Regions from separate parts of the Homo sapiens genome. Here regions 1, 2 and 4 are each linked to region 3. The links come from fine-mapping of genetic effects on gene expression. A gene starts in region 3. Each other region holds a variant in brackets. All regions are shown on one strand. Distances are between the middles of the regions. Region 1 overlaps CLHC1 (clathrin heavy chain linker domain containing 1). Region 2 overlaps CLHC1 (clathrin heavy chain linker domain containing 1). Region 3 holds the start of CLHC1 (clathrin heavy chain linker domain containing 1). Region 4 has its middle 64 kb from the start of CLHC1.

Region 1 (5,152 bases), 52 kb before region 3:
AAAAATACAGATTGGCTACTAGGAAACCTGAATTCTAATCATAGCTCCATCAGTCACTTACTCTTTTGGAACTCAGTTTTCACATCTGAAAAGTGTAGTATTAGAGGTCTCCATCTAATACTACAGTTTGTTTGTCTATATCTTGTTGCTCATATTTGGACCAAATTCTGGTGAGTATAATGTCTTTCTTTCTGTGCCTTGCACAGAAAAAGCAACTCAGTAATTTTTTTCCTAAAACTATCAAGCATTTAGAAATTCAAAAATGAAAACTTTAAGAAGCCAGTAGCTATTTCAAGTAGCCAGAGGTGGAACCATATGAAGTTTCCTATATTTGGCCACAAAAAGAACAATTCCATATGGGTTAATCTCTATTGGGTTAACCCAATAGTTAACCATTGAGGTAATCTAAAGCTACAATTATGATTTGTATTCTTAAATTTTTTCAAAACAAAGTCTCACTGTGTGGCCCAGGCTGGAGTGCATGGCTCACCATAGGCATAATGATTGTGTACTGTATCCTCAAACTCCTGGGCTCACGCAGTCTCCCGCCTCAGCCTTCCCAGTAGCTGAGATTACAGGCATGCCCCACTCTATACTCTCAAATTTATAAACTTGGTATTAACTTCCTAAATATTTTAAAGTAAAAATATTATTTTGCGGCCACAATAGAGGTAATTTTCAGAATAACTTCTGAGAGCCTTTCAAGGACTACCCGAAACATAATTTGAACTCTGAAAGCCTTGGGTTTTTAAAATGTATTTAATATATAGAGATGGGGTCCCACTATGTTGCTCCAGGCTACTCTTGAACTCCTCGTCTCCCTTTTTCTTACTACATTTCAAAATCCATTTTATTTTTTAAAAAATTATTATTATTATTATTATTATTATTATTGGATAAGGTCTCACTCTGATGCCCAGGCAGGAATGCAGTGCCACAATCACAGCTCACTGCAGCCTAGAACTCCTGGGCTCAAGCGATCTTCCCATCTCAGCCTCCTGAGTGGCTGGGACTACAGACCCATCCCTAAAATTTTTAAATTCTAAGAGTAATTAAAATCTATATCCCATGTCTAAACATTAACTAATATAATTCTTACATATGGAAAAATAATAGTTAACAACACAGAAACTGAAACTGTATACTTAGGTAATGGAATATTAATTAATACCTACTATGCCAGATTCTGTCCTGTCACTACATAACCAAATCACTTAGCTCTAGCTGTGCCTCAGCCTCTCTGTGGAAACATACTATTTTTGCATCTATAAAATGGGACAATAACAAAACCTACCTCATAGAGTCAACATAAGGATTAAGTGAGATAATCCATGAAAAAAAGCCTAGCTATTATTACAATAATAGTATAGGGCATGCTGTTATTAATGAAGAAATTTGTAACTTAAAAAAACAACAACATAGATTCTAAGAAAAAGTCAATTAATTGCTTGAAAATGACCAGATTCAACAACTACTAAAACTCCTTTTTCCTGGAATAATGTGACCTAAAAATGGCCATGTTTGGTTCCATTTTGCATCTTCTTAGAACTGGGATACATAGCCTGCAAATCAGGACAGGCACTGGCCTGGGGGATGGGGAGATGTCAGCAATGCCTGTACTTACAGTTATTGCCAAACTAGATCCAGAATAAGAGCTCTGCTCTTCCAACTAGGGTCACCCTAAGGTCCACAGTTCTCTCAGATTACCGTTCAATTGTAATCTCAGATTACTGTTCAATTGTGTTTTAAAATTTTGAAATAAATTAGAAATTCTTCATTTCTGATGCTTATATTACAGTTCAAAACATTATATATCACAGGCTGGGTGCGGTGGCTCACATCTGCAATCCCAGCACTTTGAGAGGCTGAGGCGGGCAGATCACAAGATCAGGAGATCAAGACCATCCTGGCTAACACGGTGAAACCCTGTCTCTACCAAAAATACAAAAAGTTAGCCGGGCGTAGTGGCGGGCACCTGTAGTCCCAGCTACTTGGGAGGCTGAGGCAGGAGAATGGTGTGAACCCAGGAGGCAGAGCTTGCAGTGAGCCAAGATCGCAGCACTGCACTCCAGCCTGGCAACAGAGTGAGACTCCATCTCAAAAAAAAATATATATATATATATCTCACAAATAAGTTATTTTTAAAAATCATATATGTAGTATGTTCTAGTATATCTGCTAAATCTATCTTTAAAACTGTATATTTCCAGGACTATCTGGCTTATTAAATGTTTGTATTTTGAGGAAATACATAATATTTTTGAATATCCAGCATGAAAGCCAATCAGCTCCAGCTTACTATGTTCATGAAAAATTACACAAGAAATCTCCTACTTATTGGTATATATAAAATTGATTTTATAACGTAAGTTTAAAGTAGTGCTTGCTATTATGGGTAATCTTACAATTAAAGCCCAGAATTCAAATGTATACAAATGGCAGACTTTTTAACTT[A/T]CCGGTAGTAAAGTCCTTCAACTGCTGTATGTACTCCATGACCCTATGAGTCTGACCCTGTTTACACAAGCAAAGAATAGCTTTCTTGTGCAGGCCACATTCACTGTAGACAATCTGAGCTAAAGCCAGGCACTTGGCCTTGTTATAAGTATCCTGCTCCCCATAATCACAAATCACATCCCCAGCCTCCTCAGAAAATGTCAGTCTAGAACAAGCAGATCAATAAGACATATGTTAGAAAATTCCTGATGAGTGGCTGAGACTGAAATATTTGAAAATTCAGCACAGTAGGACTGGATTTTCTACTACCTGTAAGAATTCCAAGTTACAATTTAATAGGCAATTGATTATGTAATTGAAATGATTACTTGTCAATTTCTATCACCCCGATAATAGTCAATATGAAAATAAAGTTATTTGGAATGTAGTGGTGTATTTGCTAAGAAAATTAGATTTCTACAGGAAACTAAATGCATATATATATATATTTTTAGATTGAGTCTCGCTCTGTCACCCAGGCTGGAGTGCAGTGGCGCGATCTCGTCTCACTGAAACCTCTGCCTCCCTGGTTCACACGATTCTCCTGCCTCAGCTTCCTGAGTAGCAGGGACTACAGCCGTGCGCCACCATGCCTGGCTAATTTTTGTATTTTTAGTAGAGATGGGGTTTCACCATGTTGGCTAGGCTGGTCTTGAACTCCTGACCTCAAGTCATCTGCCCACCTCGGACTCCCAAAATGCTGGGATTACAGGTGTGAGCTGCTGCACCTGGCCACCACGTCTGGCTAATTTTTGTATTTTCAGTAGAGACAGGGTTTCACCATGTTGGCCAAGATGGTCTTGAATTCCTGACCTCAAGCGATCCTCCCACCTCTACCTCCCAAAGTGTTGGGATTAGAGGCATGAGCCACCACACCCGACCACTAAACACTTTCTGATTAATTGCAATAGGGACCTGAAGTAAATGTTCAAGTAACATATTGATAAAGCTATTAATATTTTTAGAACAAACAACTTTATTAACGAAATGTCAAAATTAAGTTAAAAGCTTAACTTTGCTTACCTTTCCTGTGTAACCCAATTGGTAACTAAATCTAACCGTTTTTCTGATAATCCACATTTGATTCCTTCCAGGGTTAGAGCTGCATCAACAGGACATGGAAAAGCATGACTTGTGATAAAGAGGGCCTCAAAAAATAAGAGTAATGGAAGAGGCTTTCCTCTAATTTTTCCAACAGCTACAGAAAGGAGAAAATTTTCTGAGTCAAATACTTTAAGAAATAGTTTGCTTTTTCTTATCTCATATTACTATTTTTGTGCCTTTGCTTTTCTAAAACTTTAACAATCTAAAATTACACATTTATAATTTTTAACTCATGCTTATAGATTAAACTTTATCTAAATGACTAAATATCACGTGCCATGTGAAGATGGAGGCAGAGATTGGAATGATCTGCTACAAGCCAAGGGAGGCTAAAAATCGCTGACAACCACCAGAAGCTAGGAGAGAGGCATGGAATGGAATCTCCCTTAGAGCCTCCAGAAGGAATGAACCCTTGACACCATGATTTCAGAGCTCTGGCCTCCAGAACTGTGAGCGAATATATTTTTCTTTTAAGTAATAGGGTTCTGCTGTTAATGAGGCCAATTTGCTATGACCGAAGAGAACAAAAGGTGCAGCTGCAGATACACAGAGGATAAAATTCCTAATGCAAACTATCCTGCTTTAATGACCAATCAAATGAGGCAAATATAAAACTGGACATTTAAAGGAATATACTTAGTCTAACATACCCTAACTTTGAAAATAATTCAATGAGGATGACAAATTAGGATCCTGAAATTTACATGTAGATTCAGCCAGTGACCAAAAAAGTATGTCAATCCCAAATCAGCATGACTACAATTCATTTTTTATTAAGCTGTATGTACACTCAATGCTTGAACTTGCAGGGGAGGAAGACTGTCAATTTGAACTCTTAATTAATCCATCAGATTATTTTCCTTTTTGTGAGCAGAAAATAAATTTACCACCATATCTTATTTCCTAGATTTTTCTTTAATTCTCCTCCTCAAAGTCAAGTGAGACAGTTTAGAGAGAACTACTGGATATGGATGTCTTGGAATTTAGAGAACAAAAAGACCAGAGCCTGATATTTGCCTGGAAAGTTTAAAGGTGAAAGGCTAGAGTGAGTAAAGAGAATTAAAGTACGAGCAAATTCTACTTTCACAAGATTGCATGTTCCTTAAGGGTGAAGGAGATTCCATGAAAGGCGGGTAGGCTGGTTGTCTTGAAAAGGCTCTCTCAGAGAGGTCTGCATGCAGACCAGATAACCCCACCTGAGAGAGTCTTTGGGGGTACACACCACCAGAATCATTAGCAGCCAGCTAAAGTAATACCTCCTGAATCAATAAAAGGCACAATGGAAAGTCCCCAGTGAGGGAAGGCCCTAAAAAACAAAGACTAAAGCAGTAAACTAGGAGGCAACATTGGGCATCTACCACACCCAAGAAACATCAAAGCCTAATGACCACTGCACCAGTTGAGTAAGACCTTTCCTGTCCCTTATATAACCCCACTGTAAAGCTGCCTAGTGATTAGAAGAGGAGAGAGTAGCAGAGTAAAGAAGAAGCAAACATGTCTCCTGAGCCTCAATAGGTTCTAGAGCCAAATCAGAGCCTAACCAGGGTAAGGGGAA
Region 2 (5,152 bases), 26 kb before region 3:
GGGGAAATTCTCCAGGACATTGGTCTCGGCAAAAATTTCTTGCATAATACCCCATAAGCACAGGCAATTGAAGAAAAAAATGGACAAATGGGATCACATCAAGGTAAAAAGCTTCTGCACAGAAAGGATACAATCAACGAAGTGAAGAGACAACCCACAGAATGGGAGAAAATATTTGCAAACTACCCACCTAACAAGGAGTTCATAACCAGAATACATAAGGAGCTCAAACAACTCCATAGGAAAAAAATCTAATAATCTGATTAAAAATGGGCAAAAGATGGCCAGGTGAGGTGGTTCACACCTGTAATCCCAACACTTTGGGAGGCCAAGGCAGGTGGATCACCTAAGGTCAGGAGTTAGAGACCAGCCTGACCAACATGATGAAACCCCATCTCTTCTAAAAATACAAAATTAGCTGGGCATGGTGGTGCATGCTTGTAATCCCAGCTACTAGGGAGTTTAAGGTAGGAGAATCACTTGGACCTGGGAGGCGGAGGTTGTGGTGAGCCGAGATCACGCCATTGCATTCCAGCCTGGGCAACAAGAGGGAAACTCTGTCAAAAAAAGAAAAGGCAAAAGATTTGAATAGACATTTCTCAAAAGAAGACATACAAATGGCAACCAGGCATATGAAAATGTGCTCCACATCATTGATCATTAGAGACATACAAATCAAAACTACAATGAGATATCATCTCAGCCCACTTAAAACAGTAGCTTTTATCCAAGAGTCAGGCAATAAGAAATGCTGGCAAGAATGTGGAGAAAAGGGAACCCTTGTACACTGTTGGTGGGAATGTAAATTAGTACAACCACTACGGAAAACACTTTGGAGGTTCCTCAAAAAATGAAAACTTGGGTTACCATATGATCCAGCAATCCTATGATTATACCATATGATCAACAATCCTATGATTAATGCAGTGCTATTCACAATAGCCAAGATTTGGAAGCAACCTAAGTGTCCATCAACAGACAAATGGAAAGAAAATGTGGTACGTATAGGCAATGGAGTACTATTCAGTCATAAAAAAGAATGAGATCCTATCATTTACAACAACATGGATGGAACCGGAGGTCATTATGTTAGGTGAAATAAGCCAGGCACTGAAGGACAAACTTCACATGTTCTCACTTGTTGGTGGAGTTAAAAATAAAAACAATTGAACTCATGAACACAGTAGAAGGATGGTTACCAGAGGCTATGAAGGGTAGTAGGGGAGTTGGGTGGGGGAGTTGGGCTGTTTAATGGGTTAAAAAAAATAGTTAAATTGTTAAAATGGCCATACTGCCCAAAGCAGGGAAATCTACAAAGCAGGGAACTACAAAATCACAATGAGATACCATCTTACACCAATCAGAATGGCTATTAATAAAAAGTCAAAAGGCAACAGATGTTGGAGAGGATGTGGAGAAAAGGGAACGCTTTTACATTTTTGGTGGGAATGTAAATTAGTACAATCTCTATGGAATACAGTATGGAAATTTCTCAAAGAGCTAAAAATAGAACTACCATTCAATCCAGCAATCCCGCTACTGGGTATCTACCCAAAGGAAAATAAACTATTATATGAAAAAGACACCTGCATTCATTATGTTTATCACAGCACTATTCACAATAGCAAAGTCAGAGAATCAACCTAAGTGTCCATCAAGGGATGATTGGATAAAGAAAATACACACACACACACACACACACGCACACACACACACACACCACAGAATACTACTCAGCCATAAAATAAAACTGAACGCCATTATCCTAAGTAAAATAAATTAGGGCGAGAGAACTAGGAAGTAGCAGGAAGAGAGGGATACTGAGGGGCATGAGGGAACTTTTGAGTGATAATCTCATGGGTGTATGCATATGTCAAAACTTACCAAATTGGGCTGGGCACGATGGTTCACACCTGTAATTCCAGTACTTTGGGAGGCCAAAGCAGGTGGATTGCCTGAGGTTAGGAGTTTGAAACCAGTCTGGCCAACATGGGAAACCCTGTCTCAACTAAAAATACAAAAAATTTAGATGGGTGTGGTGGCACACACCTGTAATCCCAGCTACTCGGGAGGCTGAAACGGGAGAATCGTTTGAACCTGGGAGGCAGAGGTGGCAGTGAGCCAAGACTGTGCACTGCACTCCAGCCTGGACAACAAGAATGAAACTCTGTCT[C/CA]AAAAAAAAAAAAACTTACCAAATTGTGTACTTTAATATGTACAATTTGTTGTATTATGTCAATTTACCACAAGGAAGCTGTGTTTTAAAAGGATGTGGAGCAAATTTGACAAAGTATTAACATTTATTAAATCTTGATAGTGAGTACATGGGTGTTAATGTTTCTCCATACTTTTCTGTATACTTAAAATCGTTCATAATGTAATTTAGAAAATCTAATCAAATCCCTAATGTTACTGCTAAGCAAACTGAGTAAATGGTAGAGATAGGGCTGGGGCCTAGATCTTTAGTCTCCCAGTTTAATGCTTTTTCTATTTTATGAGAGAAAAAGTAGTAAATTTTCATACATATATAAGGTTCAGAGAGAAATGCTTACCCTTAAATGTATTCATTGTACCAATGTTTCGAAGAATTCTTCTAGGACTGTTTGCTGCATAACAAGCTGCCTTTTCATATTCACCAAGTGAGATTAACTCATTAAACCTATAGCCATCACATTTTAAAATGCATTATAATGACACAAAGAAAAAGAGAAAAAACTGATTAGAAATGTTTAATACAGACTAAATATAGCGGCATAACGATATGGAAAAACAAAAAGGAATTCTAATAAACTATAACTAGAATCATTCACACTGTAAGATGTTCCTTGAAATCCTTCTCTAGTACTCTGTTGGGTTTTTTTTAAGTCTCAGAATAAAACTCCCACCTGCTAGCTGACTTTGAACATGATCCTAAACTTTATTCCTATAGCACTTACAGCAAGCCATAGAGGATGGAAGAAAGAACTTGAATTTATTATGAACTCAGATTTTTTTCCCTGCATATCATCTCCACATGAAAAAGTACTGGCATCAGAGGAAAGAAGGGCAATCTGCTTAGAAACATCGCCTAAAGGAAATATTAATTGAAGATAGAACCTACCAAATTGGGCCGGGCATGGTGGTTCATGCCTGTAATCCCAGCACTTTGGGAGACCGAGGATGGGGGATCACGAGGTCAGGAGATCGAGACCATCCTGGCTAAGATGGTGAAACCCTGTCTCTACTAAAAATACAAAAAAAAAAAAAAATTAGCCAGGCGTGGTGGCATGTGCCTGTAGTCCCAGCTGCTCAGGAGGCTGAAGCAGGAGAATCACTTGAACCCGGGAGGCAGAGGTTGCAGTGAGCCAAGATTGTGCCACTGCACTCCAGCCTGGGCGACAGAGTGAGACTCCGTCTGAAAAAAAAAAAAATGAAGCTGCCAAACTGGAGATCAAGAGGTGTCCTTGGTATTCAGAAGCCTATGTTGTTCTGCCAGGCAACAGGTTCCCAATCGAAGATTAGCACAAGAAGGAAAGATAATAGTTAAGATAACTTAAGCCTCTACTCCTCTTCCTATGGCAAAAGGTCTTCAAATCAGTCCTTACCTCACAATTAATAAAACTATGATAAACAGAAGTTACACAGTGTTGCAAATGAATGTGGAGCCCCAGGCGGAAAACCCACTAAAGTAATATTAAGCAAAATACATAAAACTTTCAATCTCAACAAGGGTTTTTCTCTCATATCAAACTGTCAGACTTACAGAAGCATTACAGTGTAAGGAAATAACATGAGCTTTTGTGCTCTGCCCAAAATTATATTTACCCCCTTCTTTTTACCATACCAACAATCCAATTAACAGTTGAAAACTGTTTAACATATAAAGACCAGGAATATTACATATGTTCATTACAGATAAGCGTCATAGCCTATGAATTAACCTCTTAAAGAATATAGTCTTACTATGTATTAAAAATGTTTAAAAATGCTCCTGCATGTTAAACACCAGGGGAGCAACTGTGAGGGGAAAAAAGGAGGGAAAAGGAATTGAAGATAGCAGGAATGATACACAGTAGGATGTCAACTGTAACAAACTTCTACAAAAAGAGCTGAAGTAAATACGGCAAAATGTTAATTTCTTGCTAAGTTGGTACACAGAATAACATTTTGTTAATGTTATTGTCTGTATTTTTATGTATACTTGAAATATTTGATGAAAGTAATGTTTGATAAAAAGTAAACAAAGTAAAAAAGAATATAGTCTTAAATCTCTTTAATCTTATATACTATGTATAATAACTTAAGTATTAGGGAGAAATATGCCTCCTTAATAAGTCAGGGGATAGAAGTAATGAGAAAGAAAGGACTGAATTGGCTAGAATAATCTGAATCAGGAAGACATTCTCAAAAACATTTTGTAACATCAGGTTGATAGCTAGGAAATGTAAGAAAAATACAGGCTGGGTTTCCCTTATCCTAAATGCGTGGGACCAGAAGTGTTTTGGATTTCAGATTTTTTCATATTTTGGAATATATGCATGTACATAATGAGATATCTTGGGGATGGGATCCAAGTCTAAACACAAAATTTATATTTCATATATACCATATACACATAGCCTGAAGGCAATTTTATATAATATTTCTAATAATTTTGTGCATGAAACAAAATTTGTGTACATATTGATCTATCACAAAACAGAGGTATCACTATCTCATGTCAGTGCTCAAAATTTTTCGGATTTTGGAGCATTTCAGATTTCAAATTTTTGGATTAGGAATGCTTAACCTGTATAAATAAAACATATCAACATTATAATCCTCTTATCTCCTCTGAAAAATCTCCTAGATTCCCAATCTGGTATGTTATTCACAAAGAATCTATGAAAAAATATAATTCTGAAAAATTAAAGCTTTTAAAATATTTGCCTTTCAATGTAGTGAAGCATAATTTCAGCTTCTTTTGCCCTGCGTGGATCATCTTCCATTAGTTCTTCAACAATGCCTTGGTCACCTGTAAATATTGAAAGTACTACTGGAAGATATTTAAGGTTACTTACCAATAGAAAACAATAAACATACATGTGTTTAATACCAACAGCTTATTGCTATGGCTCCTAACAGCAGCAACCTCTTCCTAAACTTAGTGGCCTCCCCGTCCCTTTCCTCTTTTTTT
Region 3 (5,144 bases):
AGATTCGAAGCCTTTAGAGGCCTGTGTGCAGAAGAGTGGGAGAGCTGACTTAACATTTTAAAGAATTGTTCTTGGCCAGGCATGGTGGCTCATGCCTGTAATCCCAGCACTCTGGGAGGCCAAGGCGGGCAGATCACCTGACGTCGGGAGTTCCAGACCAGCCTGACCAACATGGAAAAACCCTGTCTCTGCTAAAAATACAAAATTAGCTGGGCGTGGTGGCGCATGCCTGTAATCCCAGCTACTGGAGAGGCTGAGGCAGGAGAATCACCTAACCCGGGAAGCAGAGTTTGCGGTGAGCCAAGATTGTGCCATTGCACTCCAGCCTGGGCAACAACAGCGAAACTCCATCTCAAAAAAAAGAAAAAAAAGAATTGTTCTTGTTGCTCTGTGGAAAACAGATTATAGGACGCAAGGGTCAAAGCTGGAAGTGCTGTTACGAAGCTACTGCAATAATCAAGGCAAAAGATGATGGTGGCTTGAATCAGGGTGCTAACAATGGAGGTGGTAGGAAGTGTTCTGCATATATTTTGAAAATAAAGCCAAGATCTGCCAAGGTAGATAAGATGTGGGATATAAAAGAACAGTCAAGGATAATCATAAAGTTTTTGGCCTTAGTGACTGGAGAAATGGGAATTGCCATATATAAACATGGGAAGAGCAATTTCATGAGATTAAGTGTTTGGGGCCTGTCCATTAGAGATGTTGAGTAGATAGCTGGATATGTGAAGATGAAGTTGTGACATATCTGTGACATATCTGGTCTGACAGATAAGTTTATGAGTCATTTGCATATGATGATACTTTAAAAGTTATTAAACAAAAATGAGATAACCAAGAAAATGCAGACAAAGCAGAGGTCCAAGGACTGGGCCTTGGGGATACTCCATGGTTAGAGGTCTTGCAGATCAAGAGGAAGCAGCAAATGAGCCTGGAAAAGAGCCTCCAGGGTGGCAGAAAAACTGAGAGGTGAAGTCTTTGAAAGGTTTTCAAAGAGAGATGGAATGAGCAACTGTGTCAAATACTGCTGACAGATCAAATAAGATGAAATGACCATTGAATTTAGCAACATGGAGGTCATTAGTGACCATTACAAGAGCTATCCGATCAGAATGGTGGGGACAAAAGCCTGACAGGAGTGGGTTCAGACAACGGAAGGGAAAGATTAGAGACAATATGTACAAGCAACTCTAGGAAATTTTGTTGTAGAGACTAGTTGGCGGACTAGGGGATGAAAAATGTTCCAGGAGGCAGGGCGTGGTGGCTCACGCCTGTAATCTCACCACTTTGGGAGGCCAAGGAGGATGGATCATTTGAGGTCAGGAGCTAGAGAACAGCCTGGCCAACATGGTGAAACCCCATCTCTACTAAAAATACAAAAATTAGCCGGGTGTGGTGGTGGGCGCCTGTAATCCCAGCTACTCGGGAGGCTGAGGCAGAAGAATTGCTTGAACCTGGGAGGCGGAGTTTACAGTGAGCCGAGACCGCGCCACTGCACTCCAGCCTGGGCAACAGAGCGAAATTCCGTCTCACGAAAAAAAAAAAAAAAAGTTCCAGGAAGAATAAACGACTGGATTCTTCAGAAATGCCAAAACACGGGAGGGCATAGGTCAGGAAATTAAATTAGCTTCATTTACTAAAATGTAGAGTAATGGGTTTAGCAGATTAGGTTGTAAGGAAGGCAGAGGCTGAATGTCATTCTAAGAAATTTGAATTGTATCCTGAAGGTGAGGTATAAAATAATAACACACATTTACCTTTCAGAATGAATATTTTGGAGGCAATAGTGAAGGTGGGTTAGAAAGGAGGAAAGACTGGAGAGAGATAAGGAGTTAGATTCGGAACCCCTACAAGAGAAAATTAAGGTCTGAATTTGGGGATGGGGTCGCAGAGGGCAGAGGATGAAGAAATAAATACAGAAGACATTAGAAAGGACTCTGGTTTGTGGAGTGGAGAAAGGACAGGGAGAACTTGCTTCTAATTGGCCTCCTTGCCGGAAGAAGCACCCCATACATACTCCAAAAACTTCCTCTCAGATCCAAGACTCCCAATGCCCAAATTTGGAAATTCTACAACTAAATAACCATTCTGCAGGTTTCTTTTCCGTACGGCTTCACTTTAAAATTTGAAAACTCCTGAGATTTTTCAACATATTAAAGCGTGTCACACTAAGGAGTGACACACAAGACCCAGACTCTTCCCTAGGCTGGGAGAGACTCGGCGGTTGAAAGCAGGGAGGCGCTACAGGAGAGAAAGGGCTGAACCCCCGCTTCCGCAGATTTCACCTATTTTTCAGTTTGCCTGGAGCAGGCCACGCAAATTCCCTTCCCTTGAAGGCCCAAGGAGCGTCTGGTAGATTGCTGATTCTCTGCCCATCACCGCTTCTGGAAGTGAGTGAAGGACACCTTTCGTGCCCCGCACCCTTTGCCCCCCGCTTAACATTTGCTCTAGTCACTTCCGGCCCGTTCCCACGCTCCGGAAACCATTATTCCGCTTCATCCTACCTCCAGTCCTCACCTGAGTCCTTTTCTCCAAACACCGACTTCAGTGCTTAGAGATAGTAACTAGGGAATCTGGGAGGTGGAACTGCATCTTGGGACAAGTAGTCCAAGGTAGAAGAAAGCAGTGGAGAACTACAGTTCCCAGAATGCACTTCCATTTCCTACCTCTTCCCCAAGAGGCCCCCCTCGACCTCCTTTTAAAAATTCTCTTAGCCACGTTGATTGTACGGGAAAAGCCTTTTTAAAACATCTTTTACGTTGCTTAAACCTACAGTTTCGAAAGCATTCCGAAGGCTAAAGTGAGAAATAAGCCCAGGCTAGGGAGAGGAGAAACGAAGTTCACGTCCTAGTCTGGCACCGGGTTGGATTGTCGCTGGGACGGCAGTCAGGCATTTGGTGTGGTCGCCTAAGGGGTGGGTCCTTCGGCGGGAGCTCCGGGAAACCCCGTGGGCCTGCGCGGCGTTCTTCCTTTTCGATCCGCCATCTGCGGTGGGTGTCTGCACTTCGGCTGCTCTCGGGTTAGCACCCTATGGTGCCTTCTCTTGTGATCCCTGACCTAACCTGTCTCTTCCTTTTCCTCAACCTCAGGTGGAGCCGCCACCAAAATGCAGATTTTCGTGAAAACCCTTACGGGGAAGACCATCACCCTCGAGGTACGGGCCGGGTGGTCATGAGGAAGCCAAGGTCCGAATAAGGTCCTGAGGTGGATTTTAGGACCGGCGCTGCTTTCCATGTCTTAGACCATGATTCCGAATTTGGGTTCTAAAACTTAAGCTTTGAAATGAGTACCTTTTGCTGAGCAACGACCTAGAGGTGATTTTCGGTGGCCAAAGGCTGGACCTGTCTCCTCTCGAGGGGTTCCAGCTAGTTAGTTAAAACGGAGGAGCTGCGGTGGGGAAGGAGACGCTCTGCCCGCCGGGTGCGAGCACGTGTGGCCCTGCGGCCGCCGCCCGCTCTGGGCTGGGGAGATGAAGGTGCTTTCCGGTAGCCGACTTGGGAGGTTGCCCACTGGGTGGGTAATAGGTCTCTCGAGTAGGTCTCAGCCCTGTCGCTGGTTCGGTTCAGTGGTAATTGTCAAACTAAATGAGTTCTGCTGTAGTTCCTTAATGTGTAACCAACATGCTTTCACTTTAACACTCATAGGTTGAACCCTCGGATACGATAGAAAATGTAAAGGCCAAGATCCAGGATAAGGAAGGCAAGTAGTATTTTGTAGTTAAGAAAACTTAACCTGCGGAGACTTCGGCCTACCTGTAGGTGCTAGACATACCTGCTCTTGGTGATGGGGGAAGGGGTCAGATTGACAAAGCGAAATACTTGTGGAATAACACAATAGACATTGGTGATCGGGGAGCACAGTACCTAGATTGGAATCCTTGAGGTGTATTTCACTTGCGTGAATTTGGACACTTATTTATTTATTTTGTGTGAGATGGAGTCTCCTCTGTCGCCCAGGCTGGAGTGCATTCGCTTGTCCCGGCTTACTGCAGCCTCCGCCTCCCGGGTTCAAGTGATTTTTGTGCTTCAGCCTCCCTATTAGTGGGGATTACAGGCGTGCACCACCATGCCTGGCTAATTTATTGTATTTTTAGTAGAGACTGGGTTTTACCTTGTTGGCCAGGCTGGTTTTGAACTTTTCACATCAAGTGATCTGCCCACCTCGACCTCCCAAAGTATTGGTATTACAGGTGTCAGCCACTGCAGACAACCAAGTATTGTCCCTAATATTAAATGCGGTAAAATGTGACATGTAAAGATTTAGAACCATGCCTAACCTCTAGTAAGGGCTTATTGTCAGCCTTTAGTATCATGTATTTGATTAAGGGGTGTTACCTTATAAGTCTGGAGCACATCACAGGCTTGGTGTGCTGTGACTTAATTTTTGTTTTTTGTCATTAGGAATTCCTCCTGATCAGCAGAGACTGATCTTTGCTGGCAAGCAGCTGGAAGATGGACGTACTTTGTCTGACTACAATATTCAAAAGGTCTGTCTAGGGGAAGAGCAGCCTCTTTTAAAAAAAAAATGTTATTTTGGAAATTTTTTATTTTACTTTTTTTGAGACAGGCTCTGACTCTGTCACCTAGGGTGGAGTGAGTGGCGCAGTCACTGCAACCTCCACCTCTCAGACTCAGGTGGTCCTCCCACCTCAGCCTCCTGTAGTTGGAACTATAGGCACCCGCCACCATGCCCAGGCTGGTCTCAAACTCCTGGGCATAAGTGATCTTCCCACCGTGGCCTCCCAGCGCTGGGATTACAGACGTGAGCCACTCCATGTGGTGTATTCTGGACATTTTGACACACAAAAAGGGAAAATGGCATTCGAATAGCAGTAGATTTTTAGGTAACTCCTATACTGATACTTGAGAAGCACTGCTATAGTTCTCCCATTATGAATTTTGCAAGTTGTATCCCATGGTGTAATGTAATGCATTCTTTAATGTCCCTATAAACTGTCAGTTAAGAATCTGATACTTTATTGGGTTTGGGGGCTGCAAGATTCCCTCAAATGTTATTGTGTGCTGCTACTGCTTTTAATTAGAAAATGCATAATGTTGGGTGTGCCCATTCTTAGTGGAATCATGAAAGCTTGCTTCATTCTTCCATTAACAGGAGTCTACTCTTCATCTTGTGTTGAGACTTCG
Region 4 (5,152 bases), 64 kb before region 3:
CACTGCTTATGAAGTAAATGTGCAGAGCCCTGCTGAAGGCAGAGAGAAGATTGTCATCTGTTGAGTCTGGTCAGGTAACTCACACCGTGAAGAACATTGCCCAAGTCCTTATTTAGAGAATTAAGTTTGGTGCCACCTTACAGTCAACCACAACATGTGTATTGGGCCATCCAAGCATCAGAGCAGGGGTACTGAAAAGGTGATCCCTTCCCTCACAGAACCTGCCCTTCCTCAACCAATCAGTCAGATATAGGTACAGCCAGTTCTTAAAGACCTTTAAAGAGCACTCCAAACCCACCCTCGGAACTGTCACCCCTTATAAAGTTCATAAACCTTAACTATCAAAAACATCTCCCTGCAATAATTTAAAGTTTTAACTTAAATTAAATTCCTGTGTGAATTTCTTTTTGTTGTCTTAAGCAGAAGTAGAAAACATGTATGAGGTTCTCTGTTCAGTAATCCTTTATGGTTCATCTGTAATATTTCTTCAAGGTTAATGATCCCATTTCCCACTAGCTTTCTGGCAAAAGGTCATGTTTTCAATCCTATCATCTCTGTAGCTTTCTGTAATAAAGCTTGGTTTGAATGTCAGTCAGTTTAATAGCTATGCCAATTTCTCACCTAATAGAGCCAAGTCTTTATCATCCTCTTTGACAAATGGCACAAGTGGATGCAATAACAAGTCACATTCTAAAGCCACTGAGGGCACTTTGGTTCCCACCCTTCCAGGCAAGCATTTCCACAGCCTGGGCTCCTAACTGAAGATACAAAGGGATCAAGGGAAGAAGAAAGGTTAAACCTAGGAACACGGAAGCCAATGTGCCCCCAGAGAACGGAAGAGGCGGTCTGCGAGTTCAGAAGGCAGGCAGCTCATGCTTGAAGGTGATAGCCTTCTGCCTACAAGAGAAATCTGAGCACATCAGTTACTTCTGTCTTACCAAGAATCCCTGAGATACTGAGATTTCTGAGTTGAAAGTGAGATAAGGCCTGTTTTGTTTTGTTTGTTTGTTTCCATGTACATAGCTCAAGATGTTTTCTTGGCCGGGTGCAGTGGCTCACTCCTGTAATCCCAGCACTTTGGGAGGCCGAGGCGGGTGGATCATGAGGTCAGGAGATTGAGACCATCCTGGCCAACATGGTGAAACCCCACCTTTACTAAAAATACAAAAATTAGCAGGGTGCGGTGGCACGTGCCTGTAATTCCAGCTACTCAAGAGGCTGAGGCAGGAGAATCGCTTGAACCAGGGAGTCGGAGGTTGTGTGAGCCCAGATGGCGCCACTGCACTCCAGCCTGGTGACAGAGTGAGACTCCATCTCAAAAAAAAAAAAAAAAAAAAAAAAGATGCTTTCTGGATCTGCAATGATAAGTAGTGATTTATGTTGGAGAAAGAAATAAGGGAGGTCCAGGCCCTTACTTTACTATCTCTGACCCTGTTTACAGAAGATCCACCCAGTAACTATGACATTTAACTGTGGAGTGGTAGAGTTTTTATACTCATGAGGAAAACTCACACTAGTGGCGCCAAACCACTGGGCGTGGCCTAACACAATTTCTGATAGCCAGGGGAGCTGGGGTTGGGGAGGGTGATTACTGGCATCTAGTGTCCTGCATCCACAAGGCCACAGGACAACCTCACATAACAAAGAATTATCCCGTCCAAACTGTCAGTAGTGCTGAGGTTGAGAAACCCTGACTTACAAATAATTCTCTGTCCTCCTAAATGTATTCACCTACTCAGGAATCATCAGGCCTTGTTTCTCCTCCTCTAGACACTCAGCTGACCTGGGAAAATTACAAGCTGCTTGACCAACAAGCTCATTATCTTGTTTTTGATGGAGACAGAGCTGAGGAACAAAGACAACAAATAAAACCCCAACTGTGGGGTGAAAGAAGACTTAACCTTGGCTCATAGGCTCCCTTCAAAAGCTAAGTGGTATGTGGAGATCCGTGAGCTGGCAGTTCTGGTCAGAAAATAACAAAGTCTCAGAATTGCTTCCTAGGCTAGGGTCTCTCCGGAGGCACACACAGACGCCTCTTGCCTTCACCTCTGCACTAATCTCATTGCCCCACTTTGAATCAAGGCTTGAAGACTGTGCAAGCAGAATAACCAGGCACTCTCTTCAGTTAGTTCTGAAACCATCTCAATGATTTTGGGAGAATACACTCCCCACAATCTGGCAACAAGTTGTCTGGCTTGGGTTATTTCTAAGTCTACATTTCTTAGTTTCCTGAAGAATACACTGAGCATGCCAAAAGGTTTCAAAGCTACAGTTACGGCATCAGCAACAACTCTTCAACTAGCCTGTGCTTCAGCCCAAAGCAGCACAAACAGAAAAGTCAGCCAAGCCACGAGGGGCCTGGTCAAGCGTCTAACAGTGTAGGATTGCTGCATAAAGAGCAGGATCCTACTACAATACATCCTTTGAAGTGCCTCGAAAATAAATGCTATGTTTAGAAAACAAAGTCCTCTCTCCAGGCCTGGACTCACCCCACTCACCCCACCCTCATCCCTATTTCACTGAAAAGCTAAATATGAAAAAGTGCTTGGATGTTTACATATTTTCATATAGAGTAAATTTTCCTTAAAGGGCCATCTTCTTAAGAATACAAATCCTCCAAGAATGGTCCTTGAGCTGCTCAAGCTTTCCAACCAGAAAATATGACTATATTGAAAAATA[C/T]GACTAGAAACAATAGGACCAGCCTCACTTCTTCCCCATAAAAACAATTCCAATCACTGAAGGTCTTGCTGGCATCTCTGCCGCCATCTACTGAGTCAAACTGGCACATATTCTAGTAAATCCTAACCAAGAAAGGTCATTGTTCTGTTATGTTTCCATTTTAACTCTTACCATGTTGTATTACAATTGTTTGTATATAACTTTACTTCTAGATTGCAAGTACCCATGAGATACATAGGATGTCTTATTCCTCTCTTAGTAGCTAATCAGGAAATGGTTGTTGGATTAAGTAATTTTGAGTGTTGCACAGGGCTTCTCCAAAAAAGATCATCTCAAGAATTTTCTTTAGGACTCCTCTAAAACCCAGAAACTACCATAATTATATCAAACAGAAGAGAGCAACTAGTTTATTTTTTAAGGCTTTCAGAGTAGCTCCTTCTACAACTTTCTTTATTGACCCAATACCAGCCTTCACAATCTCCACCATCAGCAAATTATTCTGTCTCAAATAAAAATGGTTTATTATTTAGTTCTATGGCTCATGTGGCTTAGAGTTTGTTGTATCCTTAAGGTGAGGGCTTTTGGACACTCAAAGGCAGAACTGTGATTATATGTTTGTTTTTTTCTTCCCAAATTGAATAACCCCATTCCTTCAACTTTTCTTTCTACATCTTCACGATCTATACATGCTCAAAATTAGTAACAGTTTTCTTAATGTGAAGCCTCAAACTAGTTTCGATGCTCTATTTAGCATTTAAGCAAAGATGATTTCAACAAGTGTTTGTGGTGCCTGCTATTATCCCTATCAATGGGACACTTTGCATTAGGCAAACCTAACATTTACCAGGCAGATAAATTAGGAGTTGGTGATTCATCTCACAGAGCATTCCCAGGAAAATTTCTTCAAAATAACCATTTCAGTCCTGTTTCATTTAGAAAACATTCATTTTATAAGCAATTTTTCATGGATTACAAATCACAGAATGAGAGTAGCTGTAATCTTATTGATGTCTAATTTATGTGTCACTTGGGTTTAAGATATGCACCTTTTTCTGGTATCTGCTACTGGTGTTATGAGCTCTTCAAGACCTCTTGTTCCTTAGGGAAAGAGTCAGCATGAAAATCATCTCTTAGAAAATATTATCATGTTCATTTGACACCTGAAAAAGCATACCCAGAGGGTAGAAGAAACTTGGAGACTGTTTATACACACAAATAGCATAAAGGACTTTTTTCCATCTCTAGGGGACCAACCTGGGCAAAGGAATAGAAGGAATAGCCTTGGCAATTATTCTCCCTGTCCCTGCACCCTCAAGAAAACAGGGAGAGTCACATTCTCGGATGCCAAGATTAATACCTATGTTTGGTTTCTTGGCAAGCAGGCTCTCTGCACTGCAATCTGGAAGGCCACTGGAATCTCTCTGCCAATGTTTTTCGCATTCTCATTATTGATCCTAGTAGCAGCACAAACCTGTTTCTGGATGTTGTGTTCAGAAGCTGATCAACATTAAGTACTCACCTCAAGGAGGCTGGCCAAAAACAGCCTGCAGACTTTTCAAGCTGACTTTTCAAACTGTTTGCTCTTTGGGTTGGTCAGGGCCTGCAATCAAAACTCATCATCATTAATTCATAAACGCCTAACTCTTTAAGCAATTTGGCAAAAATCTTTTGACAATTCAGTCCCACTGCTGGGGGCTGCTTCCAAAATGTACATTACCAAAGTGTGTGAGCAGGCTGGACATGGTGGCTCACGCCTGTAATCCCAGCACTTTGGGAGGCCAAGGCGGGCAGATCACCTGAGGTCAGGAGTTTGAGACCAGTCTGGCCAACATGGTGAAACCCCATCTCTACTAAAAATACAAAAATTAGCCAGGCGTGGTGGGGGGCGCCTGTAATCTCAGCTACTTGGGAGGCTGAGGCAGGATAATCACTTGAACCCAGAAGGTGGAGGTTGCAGTGAGCCAAGATCGCACCACTGCCCTCCAGCCTGAGTGACAGAGGAAGACTCCGTCTCAAACAACAACAATAACAACAATATAGTCAAAATGTGTGAGCAGTATGAGGCGAAGGAAGAGTTCCAGGAGAAAATGGATGGGAATGTGTTGTCACACATTCTGATCTGTGTACAACCAAAGTGGTAGAAGGGTGACATGCCCTTCCTGTTAAGCACAAACCCACCTAAAGCTCACTCTATTTATGATAGTATTTTTATTATCTGACCTAATAAAACAAGATAACAGAATTTAACCCATACAACTGTTCCTTGAGTGGAAAAGATGGATCCTTCTCAGTGTGGCCCTAACACATTAATACACATGAAAGCTTAAAGGTAGAGTTTGCACCCAGTGGAGAGCTAAAAATGCTTGGTGGTGATTATTGCTGCAGTTTGATATATGACATGATAATGGAGACCCCCCACAGCCACAGTGGAATTTCCACTAAAGAGCTAACTGGATAGAGGCAAGGATCCATG

The links.
Region 1: its variant is fine-mapped to the expression of CLHC1 in nasal epithelium (TOPMed, PIP 0.91).
Region 2: its variant is fine-mapped to the expression of CLHC1 in whole blood (INTERVAL, PIP above 0.99).
Region 4: its variant is fine-mapped to the expression of CLHC1 in whole blood (TOPMed, PIP above 0.99). The same link has a PIP of 0.9 or more in cerebellum.

What each region holds. Positions count from the first base shown.
Region 1 is chr2:55,178,054-55,183,205 of GRCh38, forward strand. CLHC1 (clathrin heavy chain linker domain containing 1) reads right to left here. Exons shown (of 13, transcript NM_152385.4): 10 at 3,517-3,691; 11 at 2,457-2,659. Among named protein-coding and RNA genes, the nearest start is that of CLHC1, 52 kb to the right of the region's middle. The variant A/T (reference allele first, on the strand shown) is at 2,455.
Region 2 is chr2:55,203,721-55,208,872 of GRCh38, forward strand. CLHC1 (clathrin heavy chain linker domain containing 1) reads right to left here. Exons shown (of 13, transcript NM_152385.4): 8 at 4,906-4,990; 9 at 2,550-2,656. Among named protein-coding and RNA genes, the nearest start is that of CLHC1, 26 kb to the right of the region's middle. The variant C/CA (reference allele first, on the strand shown) is at 2,174.
Region 3 is chr2:55,229,719-55,234,862 of GRCh38, forward strand. It overlaps CLHC1 (clathrin heavy chain linker domain containing 1), which reads right to left and starts at 2,575. Exons shown (of 13, transcript NM_152385.4): 1 at 2,505-2,575. It overlaps RPS27A (ribosomal protein S27a), which reads left to right and starts at 2,970. Exons shown (of 6, transcript NM_002954.6): 1 at 2,970-2,990; 2 at 3,090-3,154; 3 at 3,645-3,699; 4 at 4,401-4,486; 5 at 5,113-5,144. The coding sequence starts at 3,107. RefSeq lists enhancers at 2,620-3,049, 3,070-3,249.
Region 4 is chr2:55,165,992-55,171,143 of GRCh38, forward strand. No RefSeq gene overlaps it. Among named protein-coding and RNA genes, the nearest start is that of CLHC1, 64 kb to the right of the region's middle. The variant C/T (reference allele first, on the strand shown) is at 2,680.